2 linked regions of the Homo sapiens genome follow. The protein of the gene in region 1 interacts with the protein of each later gene in a pairwise test. Each region holds a gene or a part of one and is shown in the gene's direction. Other genes may lie near its edges.

Region 1 (3,500 bases):
TGTGGGAACAGAGCTGTGTCATTTGATACATTCACAGGAAGCTACAAGGCTGATTATGCATGACAATGTAACCTGTAGTACATTTCTAGCAAAGATAATTATATTTTTCTAAACCACCTGAACACTGAATAGGAAAATAGTTCTGTAACTGTGGTAGCAATAGCCACATCTCAAAATGTTGTCATTTATATTTATAGCCAAAGAATGCTTGACAACCATTGCAGAGTGGTAGCTAGGATTGTTTAAGCCTAGGCAATATTTCTATAAAACAAATATTTTCAGTTATACAGTATTAATTGGACCACCAAGTACCAGTCCCTTAATTTTTTAATTTGTCTACACATTAACGCAGAACAGAAAGTTTTTGAGCCAAATAATAGGGCAAACTAGTTTCAGCCTACCAAAATTGGCTTCCCAGTAATGCACAAATAAAGTTGTGGAGTCTAATTAGTTGAGTAGCATTTGGGGTCAAGATAGGTAATGCCAGCAAGGCTTGCAGTAGCAAGATGGGCTTCATTTTGGGTAGAAGAGTTCATTGAACTGACCTTTGACCACTCCAAGGTTACTGCCAGTATTCCCAGAACAATTAAAACACTTTTATATAACTCCCTGCTCTCCATTCTCCTATTTCTTAACTATCGGTGAGCCTTGGCTATCAGACTGCCTATGATAGGGCAAACAAAATTTGGGGCAAAAAATCCCATATCATAACAGAATCTGTCAATTTGCATAAAATTATTTTAATGAAGTGTTTTGTTATATGACCAATTTATCATGAATAAATCATCTTTCACAAACGTACATATCAATTTACTCCTCCCAAAATTTATTTTTGCCACAATGTGGAGAAAAAAGCAAGCTATGAACAGGCAGCAAATTCAGTGGCTCAGATTGACACTGAACTGAGCTACCACCCTAAGGAAGAGCTTAGGTGGAATAGGGCAGAATAAATAAGATGTGAAATGGGAATAACATTTGTAGAAGAACTGAGTCAGCTTGGAGCCAGGATCAGGAACCAGGAAGTTTTAGTCAGGGAAAAGTCTTAGTAGAGGCTAAACAAAGAAACATCAGGATGTTAATGACAGCATTAGCTATACACAACAAACAGGATACAGGAGAAAAAGTTAGGAACAATGTATCAATGAAGTTGGGAAGGCAAGCTCATTTTTGCTACCTTAGTTGAGTAGCAGAATAATAATTTTCTGGAGCCTACATCCTAGGAAAGGTAAGGTTATGCCATATAGAAAAAGTATATCAAGTATTTGAGAAACAGTGACCTTGAATATAGTGAAGTGGAACTTGTAACTGGGACAGATTCAAATATAAGGATTTACCCTGGTTACAGAGCCTATTCCATTTGGTGTTTATGGCTGGAGGTGTTTATTTGCATCTAGAGGTGTTTCTAGGAGAAAAGATGAGTGCTTATGAGAATAGACTAACATAATATTACTGAGTTGTACAGTTTATAAAGGAAAATTACTATAATAATGTATGATTCTGTATATCTGGGTTATAAACAATTTTGAGATAATTGGTCATTCAGACACCACAGTACAGATATCATTAGAGGACATACAGTATCAGAACAGTGGGAGAATAATTAATGTTTCTAATGAACTATTACATTTTCCAGGAGAGAAACTGCTTTTCATTTTTTAACATGTATTAATCTTGGGAACTGTGGGATGATTACAAGAGTGATGTGTTTTTGAAAATATGCTCTCTGAAAACAGCAAGAGAACAGTTGCATACACATTGCTTCATTTACACTATCCCTTTTCTATATGACTTGTTAAGAATCTGGGAGATTGAGGAGAGAGTGTGTCTGTCATTTTTCAAAGCCATGAGGGGATCTTAAGGCCTGTGGGAAATAAGGTTCACTGCTCTTCACAGACATTATAACGAGGATGTTCTGTCTTACATATTACAAAGTGGCATGAATTGCAGTGATAAATTGCTCAGATAATTGGCTGTAGATTCATGGTAAAGGCTCAAATGATGTTCTAATAGAAAACAATTGCCAGATGGTTTTTAATGTTTTTATGATCCCATTCCATCTTTTAACTTGAAAATTTTATTTTTAATCATTTATTTTCATTAAATTAATAAATTGAAACTCCCATGTGTTCTGAGCCAATCACTGTCCATGGAAAGTATACCAATTTTTGTCAAGAATGTCCAAGGTTTTACTTCTACTGCTTTTAATTTTCTGTGGAAGGCAGCACTCAACTAAACAAGAGGCCCTCATGTTCTGAGAAATGCTTTACTCTGACTATTAGTGTTCTGATGATTAATAATTTAAGAAAAGTACTACACATTTACATGACATTAGTGATTAAAAAAGAGGGAAAAAAATGTCCCAAATATTATCTTGGGATTTTCACATAAAAATGCCTGTAATGCCTTAACCGCAGACATAGCACTTTTGAAACACCTTTTGGAAAGGAATAGTTACTGTCTCAGACACTGTTGAGAGATTATAGATTAATTTCTGATTTATAACTCTTGGAATAGTTTCACATAATAAAGACCCACGTGAGCTGTTCCATCAGCTTTCAAGAACAGACACTACTCTCCTTGCCCAAACAAGACATTCTAACTTTTGTACATGTCTAAAGTCTTAGGAGATGAGGACAGGGGCCTGAGAAAAGAGAGATAGAGGTGCTAGTTGGCCAGTAGGCAAGGAGATAAGAATTTTTTGACTGCCAGCAGTGGAGTGAGTTGGAGCTGCAGGGTCTGTCATCAGCAAAAAACAATTGGTAAGAAATTGGGATTTTCTTGAAATATCAAAGAATCCCTGAGACGGGCCAATGAGGTGGTGTCGCTATGTGTTATACTTAGTTGAAAAAAATGAAGATTGCTTGTATTGGTGAGTCAGGGCAAGTCCTTTGGGGATGTGTATGCTTGTGCAGAAGATGGAAAAATAAACTTATGAAGTTATGAAGACTGAAGTACATCAGCATGTATTAGAGACTATTAATTTGTGGTTGCTGTTTAAATCCACTAGTTCAGTGTCATGAGGCGGTGGGACAGGGAAGTGTTTCATACCTATAGTGGAAAAAAGTAAAAGCAGTTATCAGGGCTTTTGAATGATTAATCTGAAGTCTGAATACTTAGCTTCTGCTTAGTGTTAGTTTTTATTTCTATAAAACTTTCACATACTCTGTCCTCCATCTGACTACAACCAGACACTGCTAAACCCCAAAAGTGTCAATGCCTTTATACTAATACTTGGTTCTAACCTTCATAGAGATGAATGTGGCTCGTTCCTCTATCCCCAGGGATACATGATTCACTGAGCTGGAACTAGGGTTTTAGCCTGACTAAAGATCAATTCTGCTCTTGAGTCTATTAAACCAAACACTTTTTGAAAGAACAAGGAAAGCATATTCGAAATAGTACTTGACATCTGTCTTTCTGTTTTATAACAATGATGGGTAATTAAAGTGGAAAGCTCCATGAGTTTTTTTATGGAAATCCTATCAAATTTAAAGTATCAC
Region 2 (3,500 bases), on another chromosome or scaffold:
GAAGATTAGTGGTGGTATCAATGAATATAATTTCTGATATTTCACCATGAAATGTGTCAGCATTTGGAAGCTACGCATAACTCAGCAAACAAATGGTTCCTAGTTACCGATGTATGATTTTACAAAACTGTAATGGGTAATCCATCAAAGTACAAAATACCAACAGATTTTAAGGGAACACTGAAAACTTCATTGATGTGGTTTCAGATTTCATATTGCAACTAACCTTTGAGAAACAACTGTGTTTTTATGTAGTATCAAAGAATAACACCTATAGTTATCTGAAAATGCTATTCAACTACTTACCTCTTTTCAACTGTATATCTGTGAGAGTCCAGATTTTCTTAATATTTTTGGACCAAAACAACATATTGCAACAAATTGAATGCTGAGATAGATGTGACAATCCAGGTGTCTTCTACTAACCAGATGTTAGAGGTTTGCAAAAATATACGATGCCACTCTTCATACAAAATATCTTTGTTTTGGAAAATAATAAGTTTTTAAAATAAAAATATGTCATTTAATATGTGATGTATTTATTTTTTAAATGAACTAATATATTTAGATTTTTATCAGTTTTTATTTCTAATATAGTAAACATTGATAGATGACCCACATTAAGAAAAACAAAAAACAAAAACTCTTAAATTTTAAGAGTGTAAATGATCCTAAGACCAAAAAGTTTGTGAACTGCTGGTCTAGAGTTTATTGGCTTGGGTTTCTACATGCAATGGCTTTACTTCAGCAGGTATTCTTTTTATTTCCTTTATAGTGTGAGGCCTGATAACTAATATCCTAGTTGTTTAACTCAGTGGCCCAATCTCACTCATCTGTTGATGTCGCCTCCAAAGTATTTGATGTTCTTGGCCCTTTTTAAATTGAAACTCTACTTCCTTCATGTCTCTAAGACTCCTTTTTCATAGATTTCTGTGTATATCTCTGAAACCCATTTCTGCCTCCCCAAACTTGGCATCTGTATATTCTTTACTTTGTATGTGGCATAAACTCCTTTCTGGAACCTCAGCTAGAAACTGTCATTGTCTCAGCTTTGATTCTAATTTGTAGTCCTCCTTCATGTCCTTTCTCTGGATTGTCTCTTAAATCTATCCTTTTTCCTTTTATGTAGTTACAGTTCAGAAGCCCATATCACTTCTGTCATGAACTATTGGACAAATTGGTCTCTCCTTTGGAATGCTACTAACATGATCTTCATTATCTTTTTTGAAACCTATGTGATTATGTTGGTCCCTGTATATTTAAAAAAAAAATTGAGTCCTATTAGTGGCTGCTGAATAAAGGCTGAGATCCTTAGGATAGTGTTCAAGGCCATAATAATAATCTATCCCTAAACTACCTTCCTAGCTTCATTTCCTGCTGCTTATCCCAATCCTGTGCTGTGTCAGCACTGAATTATTTTTATCATATGGTACTTTTTCTTTCTCTTTCTTTCTTTCTTCTCTTTCTTCTCTTTCTTCTCTTTCTTTTCTTTCTTGAAGGAGTCTTGCTCTGTCGCCAGGCTGGAGTGCAGTAGCGCGATCTTGGCTCACTGCAATCTCCGCCTCCCAGATTTGAGCGATTCTCCTGCCTCAGCCTCCTGAGTAGCTGGGATTACAGACGTGTGCCACCATACCTAGCTAATTTTTTTATTTTTAGTAGAGACAGGGTTTCACCATGTTGGCCAGGATGGTCTCCATCTCCTGACCTCGTGATCCGCCTGCCTCAGCCTCCCAAAATGCTGTGATTGCAGGCGTAAGCCACCATATGGTACTTTTCAAAGAAGCCCTCTAGGATTACCATCCCTCCACCCCTTGGTATCATATTGATTCTATGTATGTAGAGTCAGTCATGCACTCCATAATGACATTTTTGGTGAGTGGGGGACCACATATACAGTCCCATAAAATGATACTATATTTTTACTCTACTTTTTCTATGTTTAGATACAAATACTTACCATGGTGTTACAATTACCTGCAACATTCAGTATAGTAACATCCTGTACACCTGTAGCTTCAGAGCAATAGGCTCTACCATATAGCCTAGGTATGTAGTAGGCTGTACCATCTAGGTTTGTATAAATACATTCTATGATGTTCTGACAATGAAATCACCTAACGATGCATTTTTCAGAACATATCCGTCATTAAATGATGCATGGCTGTATGTATATGTAATTATTCCTGGAGAATAAATATATTGTAGTATAATTGTCTAGACACTTATCTGCCCTACAGGGCAGAGACCGTCTTATTCACTTTGGTATTCCCAGAAGCTAATAAAATACCTGAAGTATTGTAGATATTTAAATGTTTTTTTTTTTTTTTAATTTATTTTTTTATTGATAATTCTTGGGTGTTTCTCACAGAGGGGGATTTGGCAGGGTCATGGGACAATAGTGGAGGGAAGGTCAGCAGATAAACAAGTGAACAAAGGTCTCTGGTTTTCCTAGGCAGAGGACCCTGCGGCCTTCCGCAGTGTTTGTGTCCCTGATTACTTGAGATTAGGGATTGGTGATGACTCTTAACGAGCATGCTGCCTTCAAGCATCTGTTTAACAAAGCACATCTTGCACCGCCCTTAATCCATTTAACCCTGAGTGGACACAGCACATGTTTCAGAGAGCACAGGGTTGGGGGTAAGGTCACAGATCAACAGGATCCCAAGGCAGAGGAATTTTTCTTAGTGCAGAACAAAATGAAAAGTCTCCCATGTCTACTTCTTTCTACACAGACACGGCAACCATCCGATTTCTCAATCTTTTCCCCACCTTTCCCGCCTTTCTATTCCACAAAGCCGCCATTGTCATCATGGCCCGTTCTCAATGAGCTGTTGGGCACACCTCCCAGACGGGGTGGTGGCCGGGCAGAGGGGCTCCTCACTTCCCAGTAGGGGTGGCCGGGCAGAGGCGCCCCTCACCTCCCGGACGGGGCGGCTGGCCGGGCGGGGGGCTGACCCCCCAACCTCCCTCCCGGACGGGGCGGCTGGCCGGGCAGAGGGGCTCCTCACTTCCCAGTAGGGGCGGCCGGGCAGAGGCGCCCCTCACCTCCCGGACGGGGCGGCTGGCCGGGCAGGGGGGCTGACCCCCCCCCCACCTCCCTCCCGGACGGGGCGGCTGGCCGGGCGGGGGGCTGACACCCCCACCTCCCTCCCTGACGGGGCGGCTGGCCGGGCAGAGGGGCTCCTCACTTCCCAGTAGGGGCGGCCGGGCAGAGGCACCCCTCACCTCCCGGACGGGGCGGCTGGCCAGGCGGGGGGGCTGACCCCCCCCCCCCACCTCCCTCCCGGACGGGGCGGCTGGCCAGGCGGGGGGCTGACCCCCCCACCTCCCTCCCGGACGGGGCGGCTGGCCGGGCAGAGAGGCTCCTCACTTCCCAGTAGGGGCGGCCGGGCAGAGGCGCCCCTCACCTCCCGGATGGGGTGGCTGGCCGGGCAGGGGGGCTGACCCCCCCCCACCTCCCTCCCGGACGGGGCGGCTGGCGCGGGCGGGGGGCCGACACC

The links. Proteins that work in one complex are often made in the same cells at the same time.
Region 2: the proteins of DNAAF6 (region 1) and YAF2 interact in binary tests that used the Homo sapiens proteins (3 or more experiments, as listed by UniProt).

What each region holds. Positions count from the first base shown.
Region 1 is NC_000023.11:107,213,111-107,216,610, forward strand, and holds part of DNAAF6 (dynein axonemal assembly factor 6), read left to right. Parts: intron 1-3,500. UniProt on the Homo sapiens protein: Plays a role in cytoplasmic pre-assembly of axonemal dynein.
Region 2 is NC_000012.12:42,228,249-42,231,748, reverse strand, and holds part of YAF2 (YY1-associated factor 2), read left to right. Parts: exon of another isoform or gene 1-527; intron 528-3,500. UniProt on the Homo sapiens protein: Binds to MYC and inhibits MYC-mediated transactivation. Also binds to MYCN and enhances MYCN-dependent transcriptional activation. Increases calpain 2-mediated proteolysis of YY1 in vitro.